Linked DNA regions of Homo sapiens. The protein of the gene in region 2 interacts with the protein of the main gene of each other region in a pairwise test. Each region holds a gene or a part of one and is shown on either strand. Other genes may lie near its edges.

Region 1 (7,031 bases), on a different chromosome or scaffold from region 2:
GCATCTCCCCTGCCTTGCACCTCAGTTGCTCTGTCCAGCCCCACCCCCTTTACCTTTCCTCTGCCACCCTTGTCACCATCCTGCCCTGGGACCTTTGCACTTGCTGTGTTCTCCACCCTGAACACAAACATCATCACTCCCTCAGGGTCTCCTCTTGTCCTCTTGCTGAGGCACACGCTGCGGGAAGAGCATGTCAGGCAGAAAGAATAGCCCACACAAAAGCCCTGTCTTGACCAGGTGTGGTTGGTGGTGCCTGCCTGTGATCCAAGCCCTTTGGGAGGCTGAGGTGAGAGGATCACTTGAGCCAGGATTCCCAGGCTGCAGCGAGCTATGATTGCAACACTGCACTCCAGCCTGAGCAACAGAGCAAGACCCTGTCTCAAAAAAAAAAAAAAAAAAAGCCCTATTTTAGGTCCTTTGGGGTGTGACGGAATGCCATACTCTGGTGGCTTAGAAACAGCATTTATTGGCCGGGCACAGTGGCACATGCCTGTAATCCCAGCACTTTGGGAGGCCAAGGTGGGTGGATCATCTGAGGACAGGAGTTTGAGACCAGCCTGACTAATATGGTGAAACCTCATCTCTACTAAATACAAAAAATTAGCTGAACATGGTAGCGCATGCCTGTAATCCCAGCTATGCAGGAGGCTGAGGCAGGAGAATCGCTTGAACCCGGAAGGTGAAGGTTGCAGTGAGCCAACATTGTGCCACTGCACTCCAGCCTGGGCACCAAGAGCGAAACTCTTATCTCAAAAACAAAACAAAACAAACAAACAAAAAAACAAAAAAAGAAAGAAAGAAAGAAACAGCATTTATTTCCACACAGTTCTAGGGGCTGGAAGTCCAAGGTCAAGGTGCCGGCAGGTTTGGTGTCTGGTGAGGGCTGCTTCCTAGTTCATAGACCGGGCCCTCTTGTTGTGTCTTCATTTGGAGGAAGGGGCAAGGGAGCCTTCTGGGTCCTCTTTTATAAGGGCAGGAATCCAACGCCTGAGGGCTCCAGCCTCATGTCATCATCACCTCCCAGAGGCCCCACCTCCTAGCACCACCACAAAGGGTTAGGATCTCACACAGGAAGTGGGGAGGACAAGCTTCAGACGTAGCCTGTCCAGCAGCAGCAGGAGTGTACCCGGAGGAGCCAAAGGCCGAGCACTCTCTGCTGTATGCACACAGCCTACTAGTTGGTTCAGGGAATGCCTGTGTGTGAGGGGCTGAGCCCACACATAACATGAGGCCAAGCTTGCTGAGAGACCTGCCATGTCCCTCGGGAGAAGGGGAGGCTGGAGCCCTGTTTAGAGAGAGAAAACCAGGCAGAGCCTCAGAGCAGGTAGCCACTTACCTGCAGCCACACAGCCTGGAAAGGACCTCCCAGCAGTGTGAGCCCCCTCCTCTGGGGCTAGCCCCAGCACAGTGGATCCACAGGCAGCTGCCTCCTTCCCTCTCTCAGCACCAGGAGGTCATTTGTCCATCTGTCTTCCCATTCTGTTAGAACTAAAGCATCAGAAGTCAGTGGTGAGTTTCTCGCCAGCGTGCAGGTCCAGTGTACACCAGGCAATTGGTATAAATCCTTCAGCATCACAGCCCCACTAGAAGTAACTATATGTATGGCTTCTGTTATGGCTTTCTAAAAAACAGTGACTTCCTGGGCTCATATAAAAACAGATCCCTGCTTTCCACTGAAAATGTGCAAAGCAGACAGGGTAACCTGCAATAGCTTGAGATCACCATCTCTAACGACCCTGGGCCCACGAGCCAGCATGAACCTCTGAGCCTGGGAGACCCTGGGCAGCTCCTTCACTGATGGAGCCCTGTAGAAGGGGAGCATAGTGAGTTGAATAGTGTCCCCATAATGTGAAATCTGGGATCACTGTTGGCTGATTCTGTCTGGTGAGGGCTCTCTTCCTGGTTTACAGATGGCCGCCTTCTCCCTGTGTCCTCACACGCAGAGAGGACAGAGAGAGCAGAGAGTAAGTGAGCCCCCTGGTGTCTCCTCTTATAAGGACGCTAATCCTATTAAGGAGGATGCCCTCATGACCTAATCATCCTCCAAAGGCCCCACATCAAACGCTGTCACACTGGGAATTAAAGTTTCAACTGATTTTTCCCCAGAAAAGAAAACTGTCTTTCCAGTTATCTTAGCTCCAGCTTACAAAAAAAATCACAGATTAGGTGGCTGAAGCAATAAACACTTATTTCTTCACAGTGCTAGAGGCTGGGAGTCTGAGATCAGAGTGCCAGCATGGTCAGACCACACTGAGGACTCACTTCCTGGCTTGCAGACGGCTGCCTTCTTGCCATGTGTTCACCTGACAGACAGCGAGCTCTGGTGTCGCTTCCTCTTCTTATCAAAACATTAGTCCCAGCCAAGCGCGGTGGCTCACGCCTGTAATCCCAGCACTTTGGGAGGCCAAGGTGGGTGGGTCACCTGAGGTCAGGAGTTTGAGACCAGCCTGGCCAATATGGTGAAACCCCCTCTCTACTAAAAATACAAAAATTAGCCGGGCATGGTGGCGTGCACCTGTAGTCCCAACTACTCAGGAGGCTGAGGCAGAAGAATTGCTTGAACCCGGGAGGCGGAGGTTGCAGTGAGCCAAGACTGTGCTCCAGCCTGGGCAACAGAGCAAGACTCCATGTCAAAAAAAAAATAAAACAGTCCCATTGTGGGGGCCCCACCCTCATGACCCCCTCTAAAGCTAATCACCTCCCAAAGGCTCCATCTCCACAAAGCATCACCTTGGGAGTTAGGGCTTCCATGTATAAATTTTGAGGGGGCACAATTCAGTTCACAGCACCAGATTACAGGGCCATATTTTAAGAGCTGACAGATTCATGCTTTTTTTTTCTTTTTCAGGGATCTTTTAAATTTGTTTTTAGTTCCATTAAGTCAGTGATTCCCAACTGGGGGCAATTTTGTCCCCAGGGGAGGGGACACCTGGCAGTGTCTGGAGACTTTTTAAAGAAAATTCAGACAGGGTCTCACACTGTCACCCAGGCTAGAGTGCAGTAGTGTGATCACTACTCACTGCAGCTTCAACCTTCTGAGCTCAGCTGATCCTCTTGCCTCAGCCTCCTGAGTAGCTGGGACCACGGGTGCACAACATCATGCCTGGCTAATTTTTTTTTTCATTTGTAGAAATGAGATCTTGCTGTGTTGCCCAGGCAGCAGACAGTTTGCTGGTCTCAAACTCCTGGGCTCAAGCAACCACCTGCCTTGGCCTCCCAAAGTGCTGGGATTGCAGGCATGAGCCACCACGTCCGGCCTGGAGACATTTTTCATTGTTACAACTCAGGGGTTGAGGGGTAGTGTCCCTGGCAGCCAGTGTGGAGAGACCAGGGACGCTGCTCAACATCTCACAACACACAGGATGGGTCCCACCACACCAAATTATTGGACCCAAAATGTCATTGGCACAGAGGTCCAGGGACCCCATGCTAAGTTCTTACCAGTTCAGCTGTTAGCCATTTTTCCAGCTCAGGACAAGTGGCAACATTTAATTTTTTTTTCTATCTTTTTCTTTTCAGACCCAGAGAAAAGATGTGAGATCAAGACAGCAGCCCAGGGATCGAGGATGGAGGGACTCTTGAGCGTCGCCCTCCAGGGCGCAGAGTTGGAAGGAAACTGGAAACACGAGGGCCAGGTTGAGGACCTGCAGGAAAACCAGGAAAGCTGTCCAGAGCCAGAGGCCGTGGCCTGCAAGGGAGACCCTGCTGGGGACAGCATGCAGGAACGCGATGAATTCAGCCGAATCCCAAGAACCATATCGAGCCCTGCTGCTACCCAAGCCAGTGTCCCCGACGACAGCAGTTCCCGGAGGTGCAGCGCGCCTGGGGAGAGCCCGAAGGAGAGGCATCCTGACAGCCGCCAGCGGGAGAGAGGTGGAGGCCCCAAGAAGCCGTGGAAATGCGGGGACTGCGGGAAGGCCTTCAGCTACTGTTCAGCGTTCATCTTACACCAGAGAATCCACACCGGGGAGAAGCCATTTGCGTGCCCCGAGTGCGGCAAGGCCTTCAGCCAGAGCGTGCACCTGACCCTGCACCAGCGCACGCACACGGGCGAGAAGCCCTACGCCTGCCACGAGTGCGGCAAGGCCTTCAGCCAGGGCTCGTACCTGGCGTCCCACTGGCGCACGCACACGGGCGAGAAGCCGCACCGCTGCGCCGACTGCGGCAAGGCCTTCACGCGCGTCACGCACCTGACCCAGCACCGGCGCGTGCACACGGGCGAGCGGCCCTACGCGTGCGCCCAGTGCGCCAAGGCGTTCCGCAACCGCTCGTCCCTGATAGAGCACCAGCGCATCCACACCGGTGAGAAGCCCTACGAGTGCTCCGCGTGCGCCAAGGCCTTCCGCTTCTCCTCAGCGCTCATCCGCCACCAGCGCATCCACACGGAGGAGAAGCCCTACCGCTGCGGCCAGTGCGCCAAGGCCTTCGCGCAGATCGCGCACCTGACCCAGCACCGGCGCGTGCACACGGGCGAGAAGCCCTACACGTGCCAGGACTGCGGCGCGCTCTTCAGCCAGAGCGCCTCTCTGGCCGAGCACCGGCGCATCCACACAGGCGAGAAGCCCTACGCGTGCGGCCAGTGCGCCAAGGCCTTCACCCAGGTGTCGCACCTGACGCAGCACCAGCGCACGCACACCGGAGAGCGGCCTTACCCCTGCCACGACTGCGGCAAGCGCTTCAGCAACCGCTCCCACCTCCTCCAGCACCGCCTCGTGCACACCGGTGAGCGGCCCTACAGGTGCCTGCAATGCGGGGCCGCCTTCAGCCACGTGTCCTCGCTTATAGAGCACCAGAAGATCCACACCGGAGAGCGGCCCTACAAGTGCGGCGAGTGCGGCAAAGCTTTCAGCCAGGGCTCCTCGCTCGCCCTGCACCAGCGCACGCACACGGGCGAGCGGCCCTACACCTGCCCCGAGTGCGGCAAGGCCTTCAGCAACCGCTCCTACCTGATCCAGCACCACATCGTGCACACCGGGGAGAAGCCCTACGAGTGCAGCGGCTGCGGGAAGGCCTTCAGCTTCTCCTCCGCGCTCATCCGACACCAGAGGACGCATGCAGACAGTTCGGGACGCCTTTGCCCAGCTCCCACGCCTGACTCAACACCTGGGCTCTCACAGGGAGGAGAAACCTGTCAACAGGGGTGCCCTGGCAGAAACCCGCGTGGACCAGCAGAAGATTAAGAGCTGAGGGCCTCCTTTCCAACCTCACAATGCTATGGGGGAGATACTGTGTTATCCCCGACGCTTCCTGTGAGGAAACCGAGGCTCAGAGAAGCTTGTTAACTTGCCTGAGGGCACACAGTGGGGAAGACACAGGGCTAAGACTGTACCTCACATCTGCCAGACTCCCCTGCGGTCTTCCTGGTGCAAAATTATAAATGGGGCACGGGCAAGTAGACCTGCAGAAACACCTATGGCTGGCCTTTAATTTCTTTCTTTTTTTCTTTGAGACAGTGTCTCTCTCTGTCACCCAGGCTAGAGTGCAGTGGAGCGATCTCGGCTCACTGAAACTTCTGCCTCCCGGGTACAAGTGATTCTCCTGCCTCAACCTCCCGAGTAGTTAAAATTACAGGAGTCTGGCTAATTTTTTTTTTTTTTTTTTTCTGAGACGGAGTCTTGCTCTGTCGCCCAGGCTGGAGTGCAGTGATGCAATCTCGGCTCACTGCAACCTCCGCCTCCCGGGTTCAAGTGATTCCCCTACCTCAGCCTCCCGAGTAGCTGGGACTACAGGCGCCCGGCCACCACACCCGGACTAGTTTTTTTGTATTTTAGTAGAGGCGGGGTTTCACCATGTTGGCTAGGATGGTCTCGATCTCCTGACTTCGTTATCCACCCGCCTCGGCCTCCCAAAGTGCTGGGATTACAGGCATGAGCCACCGCGCCCAGCCTAATTTTTGTATTTTTAGTAGAGGCAGGGTTTCACCATGTTGGCCAGGCTGTCTCGAACTCCTAACATCAGGCGATCTGCCTGCCTTGGCATCCCAAAGTGCTGGGACTACAGGCCTGAGCTACGGTGCCTGGCCAGCTGGCCTTTTCATTGTTGATTTTATTGAGTAAGCCCTTGCTCAGTAAATTTAATTGAATTAAAGTGAATAAAAGGTTTGGTTTCTTTGGCCAAGTTGGCATATTTACTAAAGGAGCAGAGTCTGAAGAAGAAATCTGGATTCACTAAGATAGAAATAGTGCTTAGAGAAAATGAGCAGGAGAAATCTAGAGCTGAAAGTTATTCTAGAAGAAGGGAGTGCTTCTCCTCTACAAAAGATTTTTAGAGTGGGCCTAGTCTTTTTTTCAGTATGAGGAAACACCTACCCATCTCCACCATTTTTCCCCCTAACTCAAAGACCTGACTTTAATGCTTGTATCAGTCAGCTCTTGCTGTGTAACAAACCATCCAGCCCTCATTTATCCATTTACTATTTCTCATGCATCTGGAGGTCAGCTGCTGGTTCTGTTGGTCTGGACCAGGCTTGGTCTGGACCTGGACCAGGAGGGCTCAGCTGGGCCAATTTGATCTTCTTCTCCTGACTCACATCTCACCTGGGTGTGTTCTCAGGGAGGTGGCAGGAGTCTGAGAGGGAGTGGACACACAGGCATGCTTTCAAGTCTCTGATATTGTCACATTTGCATCTAGTCCCACAGGCCAAAGCAAGCCTCCTAGCCAAGCCTAGGATCAGCACAGGAAGAGCCTTCCTAAGCATGTGGTCCCAGGGAAGGGTGAAAAGTAGGAGTTATGAACGTAATCCACCTACTACAATGTTGAATTAAAGTTATAATCTCATAACTTCACATGACTATAATCATTGGAAAATTATTTTATGGGGGAATACACTCATGTAGTCCACAATTTATAAAGTTAAAAAAAAAAACTGTTCTTACTCCTGTGTCTCCCAGCTACCAAGTCCCCCTCACTAGAAGCAAATGCTTACTATATGTAAGCATATATATGAATATTTATATGCATAGAATATTCTGGAAAGATATATAGTACACCTTTCTTCACAAATGGTAGCATATGATATGCAGAATTTTCTT
Region 2 (6,150 bases):
GACAGAGCGAGACTCCGTCTAAAAAAAAGAAAGAACGAACGAACGAAAGAAAGAAAGAAACCAGAAGAAAGCCTAGGGAAAACTCTTCTGGACATTGGTCTAGCCAAAAACTCATGACTATGCCCTCTAAAGCACAGGCAACAAAACAGAAAATAGGCAAATAAGATTTATCTAAACTAAAAAGTTTCTGCACTGTAAGAATTAAACAAAAAGGAAAGAAACATGAAAGATGGCTTGCCAGTTAAGACAGGTTTATTTTAGAGAAAACAAACCTAAGAGTGGCATTTGGCTGAGTTAGGTTGGAGGCACACTTTTTACAGACTAAGAGTTTTTAAGGATTCAGGGTGGGAGAGTTTTTTAGAGGCTTGGACTGCTTCTGTGTCTCTTTGTTGTGCTTATCTGGGAGGGAGAGTTGTGTGTCTATTCCCTTGCAGGCATAGCCCGAGTCTGCTTTTAACTTCCCTATCTTAGTGCACATGAAGGGAAAGGAAAGTGCTTATTAAGGCCCACTCTTTTACTGGGGCCCATTGTACGAGGGTGAAGTTTGGCAGTTACCCAAGAGACTTTCCCCCTGCTTCCCTCTGTGCCAGAGCTATCTTATCTGTGTTTTACTGTCTGCTGTTTCTGGCTGCTTGTAGTTAGAAGAGAAGTGATTTCCTTGAAATGCATGAGGCTAGAAAGGGAGCTGCAACTTCAAGTGGCAGTGTTTGTCCAAGATGATGGTGCTCCTGGTCTGTCATGCACAGCAAAAGACATAATCAATGGAGTGAACAGGCAACCTGCAGAATGGGAGAAAATATCTGCAAACTATCCATCCAACAGGGGATTAATATCCAGAATTTAAGAGGAACTCTACCAACAAAAACATTGCAAATAATTCCATTAAAAAGGGGAAAAGGACATGAACAGACATTTTTCAAAAGATGACATACAAATGGCCAATAAGCATTTGAAATAATGCTTATCATCACTAATCATTAAACAAATGCAAATTAAAACCACCATGAGAGATCATCTTATACCAGTAAGAATGGCTGCTATCAAAAAGACAGAAATAACAAATGTTGATGAAGATGGAGCTGAAAGGGAACACATAAACAGTTGTTGAGAATGTAAATTAGTACAACCGCTATGGAAAACAGTATGGAGATTTCTCAAAGAACTAAAACTAGAACTACCATTTGATCCAGCAATCCCATGACTGAGTGTCTACCTGAAGGAAAAGAAATCATTATACCAAAAATATACCTGCACACATATGTTTATTGCACCACTATTTATAGTAGCAAACATATGGAATCAACCTAAATGTCCATCAGTGGATGACTGGATAAAGAAAATGTGCTATATATAAACAATGGAATACTCTTCAGCCATAAAACATAATGAAACCATGTCTTTTGCAGAAACATGGATGGAACCGGAGGCCATTATCTTAAGTGAAACAACTCAGACATAGAAAGACAAATACTGCATGTTCTCAGTTACAGTGGGGCCAAATGATGCGTACACATGGAGGTAGAGTGTGGAATGACAGACAATGGAGAGTCTGAAGGGCAGGGGTGTAGGAGGGGGAAGGATGATGAGAAATTACTTGATGGGTAGAATGCACGTTATTTCAGTGATGGATACTCTAAATGTCCTGACTCGACCATTATGCAATATATCCATGTAACAAAATTATACATTTACACGAATAAAATATTTTAAAAATATCTGAATTGGAAAGGAAGAAGTTACATTGTTTCTATTTGCAGATGACATGATCTTATATGTAGAAAACCCTAAAGACTTCACTGAGAAACTGTGAGAACTAATAAACAAATTCAGTAAGGTTGCAGAGTATAAAATCAACATGCAAAACCCAGTAGGTTTTCTATACACTAATAGCAAACCATCTGAAAAAGAAATCAAGAAAACTATTTCATTTACAATAGTTACAATAAAATAAAATACTTAGGAACAAGTTTAACCAAGGAAGTGAGGATATCTACACTGAAAACTGTAAAACACAGATGAAAGAAATTGATGAAAACACAAATAAATGGAATGATATCCTGTGTTTATTCCAATATTGTCCAAATATTATTAAAGCAATCTACAGATCTCACACAATCCCTATAAATATACCAATGACATTCTTCACAGAAATATTTTTAAAAAGTTCTAAAATTTGTATAGAACCACAAAAAACCAAAGTGATCTTGGACACTAAGAATATAGCTAGAAGCACCACACTCCCTGACTTCAAAATAAACCACAACACTGCAGTAACCAAAATACCATCATTCTGACATAAAAACAGACACACAGACCAATGGAATGGAATAGAGAGACCAGAAATAAAGTCACTCATTTATAACCAATTGATTTTCAACAAAGATGCCAAGAATGGGGGAAGGACAGTTTCTTCAATAAATTATGTTAGGAAAACTGGGTATCCACATGCAGAAGAATGAAATTAGTCCCTTATTTCTTACAGTATGCAAAAATCAGTTCAAATGGGTTAATGGCTTGAATGTAAGATCAGAGGCTATGAAATTTTTGGAAGAAAGCATGGGGGAAAGATTCATGACATTGGTCTCGGCAATGACTTTTTGAATATGACCTCAAAAGCACAGGCGACGAAAGAAAAATTGGATGACTGAGATTACATCAAACTAAAAAGCTTCCACACAGCAAAGGAAACCACAAAAAGAGTCAAGAGATAACCTACAGAATGGGAGAAAATATTTATAAAGTATATATCTCATAAGGGGTTAACATCCAAAATACAAAAGGAGCTCAAACAGCTCACAAGCAAGAAAACAAAAACCTGATTAAAAATGGGCAAAAGACCTGACTAGACATTTCTCAAAAGAAGACATACAAATGGCTAACAGGTTTGTGAAAAAGTACTCAACATTACTAATCATTAGGGAAATACAAATCGAAACCACATTGAGATATCACCTTATTCCTGTTAGAATGGTTATCATCAAAAAGACAAAAGATGACAAGTATTGGCAAGGATGTGAAAAAAACTCCCTCGTACACTGTTGGTGGGAATATAAATTAGTTCAGCCATTATGGAAAACAATATAAGGGTTCCTCAAAAAATTAAAACTGGAATTACCGTATTATCCAGCAATCCACTTCTGGGTACCTTATATATCTACAGGAAATGAACTTAGTATGTTGAAGAAATAACTGCATGTCCAGATTTATTGCAGCACTATTCACAATTGCCAAGATATGCACACAGTGCAAGTGTCCACCAATGAGTAAGGGGATAAAGAAAATGCAGTATATACTCAGTGCAATACTATTTGGCCGTAAAAAGACGGAAGTTCTGTCATTTGTGACAACATGGATACATCTCAAGGAAATTATGCTAAGTGAAGTAAATCAGTCATAGAAAGACAGATAGCACATGATCTCACTCACATGATCGCACTCAAAAAAGTTGATATCATAGAAGTAGAGCAGAGAATGAAGATAATCAGAGGCTAGGGGTGGCTAGGGAGTCAGGGGCTTGAGGAGATACTGGTCAAAAGACATATAATTGTAGCTAGACAGGAAGAATCAGTTCAAGAGGTCTACTGTATAGCATAGTGACTATAGTTAATGATGATATATTGTACATACTGTATTCTTGAAAAATTCTAAGAATGGATATTAAGCGTTCTCACCACAAAAAAATGATAGGTATGAGAGGTAATGCATTTATTAGCTAGATTTAATCCTTCCACAATGTATATATACTTCAAAATATTATGTTGTATGTGGTAAATACAATATTATACGTCAATCTGAAAAATAACTAATTGTTTTTAATTTCACTGAGCTTGAGTTCTTTCTATATTAAGCACATCATGCAAGACACAGTAGTGGGGGTAGATAGATTCTTAAAAGTATTATACAGGTGTTACACAGTGTTAGGGAGCCTGGGTGAAGTACAGACAGCCTCTCCTGGGACTGTTTGTTACAGCTGTATGTAAATCTACAATTATCTCAAATTTCTTTTTTAAAAAGTGAAAACACACACCTGCATTATGTTAACAGACAGTTAGAGGCATTTAAAAAAAACAATGAGTTATGGAATAAAAATGGGACTATGTCTTCCGGAATCTAATAGATTAACTGGAGAGACATGACACAAAATATAGGAGAGCAAAGTATCAATTTAAGAAACTGACCCATTAGTAACACCAAGTATAAAAATTTAAGGATATGGAATATGACCCAAAATTTGAAACATTCAGGGAAACCCATTTCAATAGTGTAGAGGTCACCAAGGCCACATGCAGGTATTGCTATCCCTTTGCTTATTGCTTAATAATGACCCACAGACTAGGAATGCCACACTGAGCAGATGGGTTTTCCTCGCTATTGGTCACTAGAGGGAATGCATAACTGGAAGTGTGACTGACCAAATCCCATTTTGGTAGAGGGTACCTGAAGCGAGAGTAAGAAATGCAATTCCAAATGCAGGGAATCACATGAACAGCCCTCTGTGGAGGAAGAGGAAGAGAACGTGGTCTAGAAGATGCTACCGAGGTGTGAATCATGAGAGAAGGCAGACATGATAGATCTTATTACATCCGGACAAGAAAATTTTGTTTTCAACAAGTTTAAACCATTAAATGGGCAAACATTATTGTGTAATCTGATAATCACTTAGTTATTAAGTAAACAAAAACAAGGAAAATGTAGTACCAACAAGACAGCTGGGCAGTATATAAGAGGCTGTGGCCCAAGGACACTTCCAAACTTGAGAACCTCATTCTTCTAGAAATCCACCCAGAACCTCCACCCTCTGACACCATGGTCAGCTCCTGTTGTGGCTCTGTCAGCTCTGAGCAGAGCTGTGGCCTGGAGAACTGCTGCCGCCCCAGCTGCTGCCAGACCACCTGCTGCAGGACCACCTGCTGCCGCCCCAGCTGCTGCAAGCCCCAGTGCTGCCAGTCTGTGTGCTACCAGCCCACCTGCTGCCACCCTAGCTGCTGCATCTCCAGCTGCTGCCGCCCCTATTGCTGTGAATCCAGCTGCTGCCGCCCCTGCTGCTGCCAGACCACCTGCTGCAGGACCACCTGCTGCAGGACCACCTGCTGCTGCCCCAGCTGCTGTGTGTCCAGCTGCTGCAGACCCCAGTGCTGCCAGTCTGTGTGCTGCCAGCCCACTTGCTGCCGTCCCAGCTGCTGCATCTCCAGCTGCTGCCACCCCTCTTGCTGTGAATCCAGCTGCTGCCGCCCCTGCTGCTGCGTGCGTCCAGTCTGTGGCCGAGTCTCCTGCCACACCACTTGCTATCGCCCAACCTGTGTCATCTCCACCTGCCCCCGCCCCTTGTGCTGTGCCTCCTCTTGCTGCTAATGTCTCCTTGTGATATTTGTCATACTATGAATGTCTTCATTAGTCATTTAAAATGCACTGTAGCCAGCCAGTCACTGGAAAAATGAACACTTCCCTGCCAGTTTGTCTCATGTGGCATTCAGAGTGGACATTCAGCTCTTCTAGGAAATGACAGACAATCACATTCATTAAAATATGTTATGCCAGGCCCCAATGCAGTTATTTTTAGATGAGCAGTGTCTTCATTCGAAGGGGACACTAACTGTGATGATCTCATATAATATTGTTTTCATGTATTAATAAACAGCCACTTCCCTAATATTGAAATCTTCTGATTTGTTAGTGATCTCATTGTGCGTGTGTGTGTGTGTGTGTGTGTGTCTTTACCTGTCAGTTCACATCAAGGGCCATCTCTCTTCAAATGCAGGAGAGCATGTTTAAGAGCCTGGGCTCTTGATTCATGTTCCCTGCATTGGAATCACGACTCCCCTAGGTATTTGTTGCGTGGCATGGGGCAAGTTTTTTAACCTCCTCAGGCCTCAGTTTTCTTTCTCTGTGAATAGAGATAATGCATTACATTCTTTAAATGTTAAGAGACATAACCCATGTAATATACTCACCACAGGGCCTGGTACATAATGCAGTATAGGCTCTTAATGGATACAGTTTCTGGCCGAGCGTGGTGGCTCACATTTGCAATCCCAGCACTTTGGGAGGCTGAGTGGGTGGAACACTTGAGGCCAGGAATTCGAGACCAGTGTGGGCAACATAGTGAAATCCCTTCTCTACTGAAAGTACAAAAATTAGTTGGGCGTGTTG

What was found. The genes of interacting proteins can lie anywhere in the genome.
Region 1: the proteins of KRTAP4-5 (region 2) and ZNF835 interact in binary tests that used the Homo sapiens proteins (3 or more experiments, as listed by UniProt).

Annotation. Positions count from the first base shown.
Region 1 is NC_000019.10:56,661,734-56,668,764, reverse strand, and holds the end of ZNF835 (zinc finger protein 835), read left to right. Parts: intron 1-3,519; 5' UTR 3,520-3,566; coding exon 3,567-5,180; 3' UTR 5,181-6,785; downstream 6,786-7,031. UniProt on the Homo sapiens protein: May be involved in transcriptional regulation.
Region 2 is NC_000017.11:41,148,424-41,154,573, reverse strand, and holds KRTAP4-5 (keratin-associated protein 4-5), read left to right. Parts: upstream 1-4,748; 5' UTR 4,749-4,806; coding exon 4,807-5,352; 3' UTR 5,353-5,650; downstream 5,651-6,150. UniProt on the Homo sapiens protein: In the hair cortex, hair keratin intermediate filaments are embedded in an interfilamentous matrix, consisting of hair keratin-associated proteins (KRTAP), which are essential for the formation of a rigid and resistant hair shaft through their extensive disulfide bond cross-linking with abundant cysteine residues of hair keratins.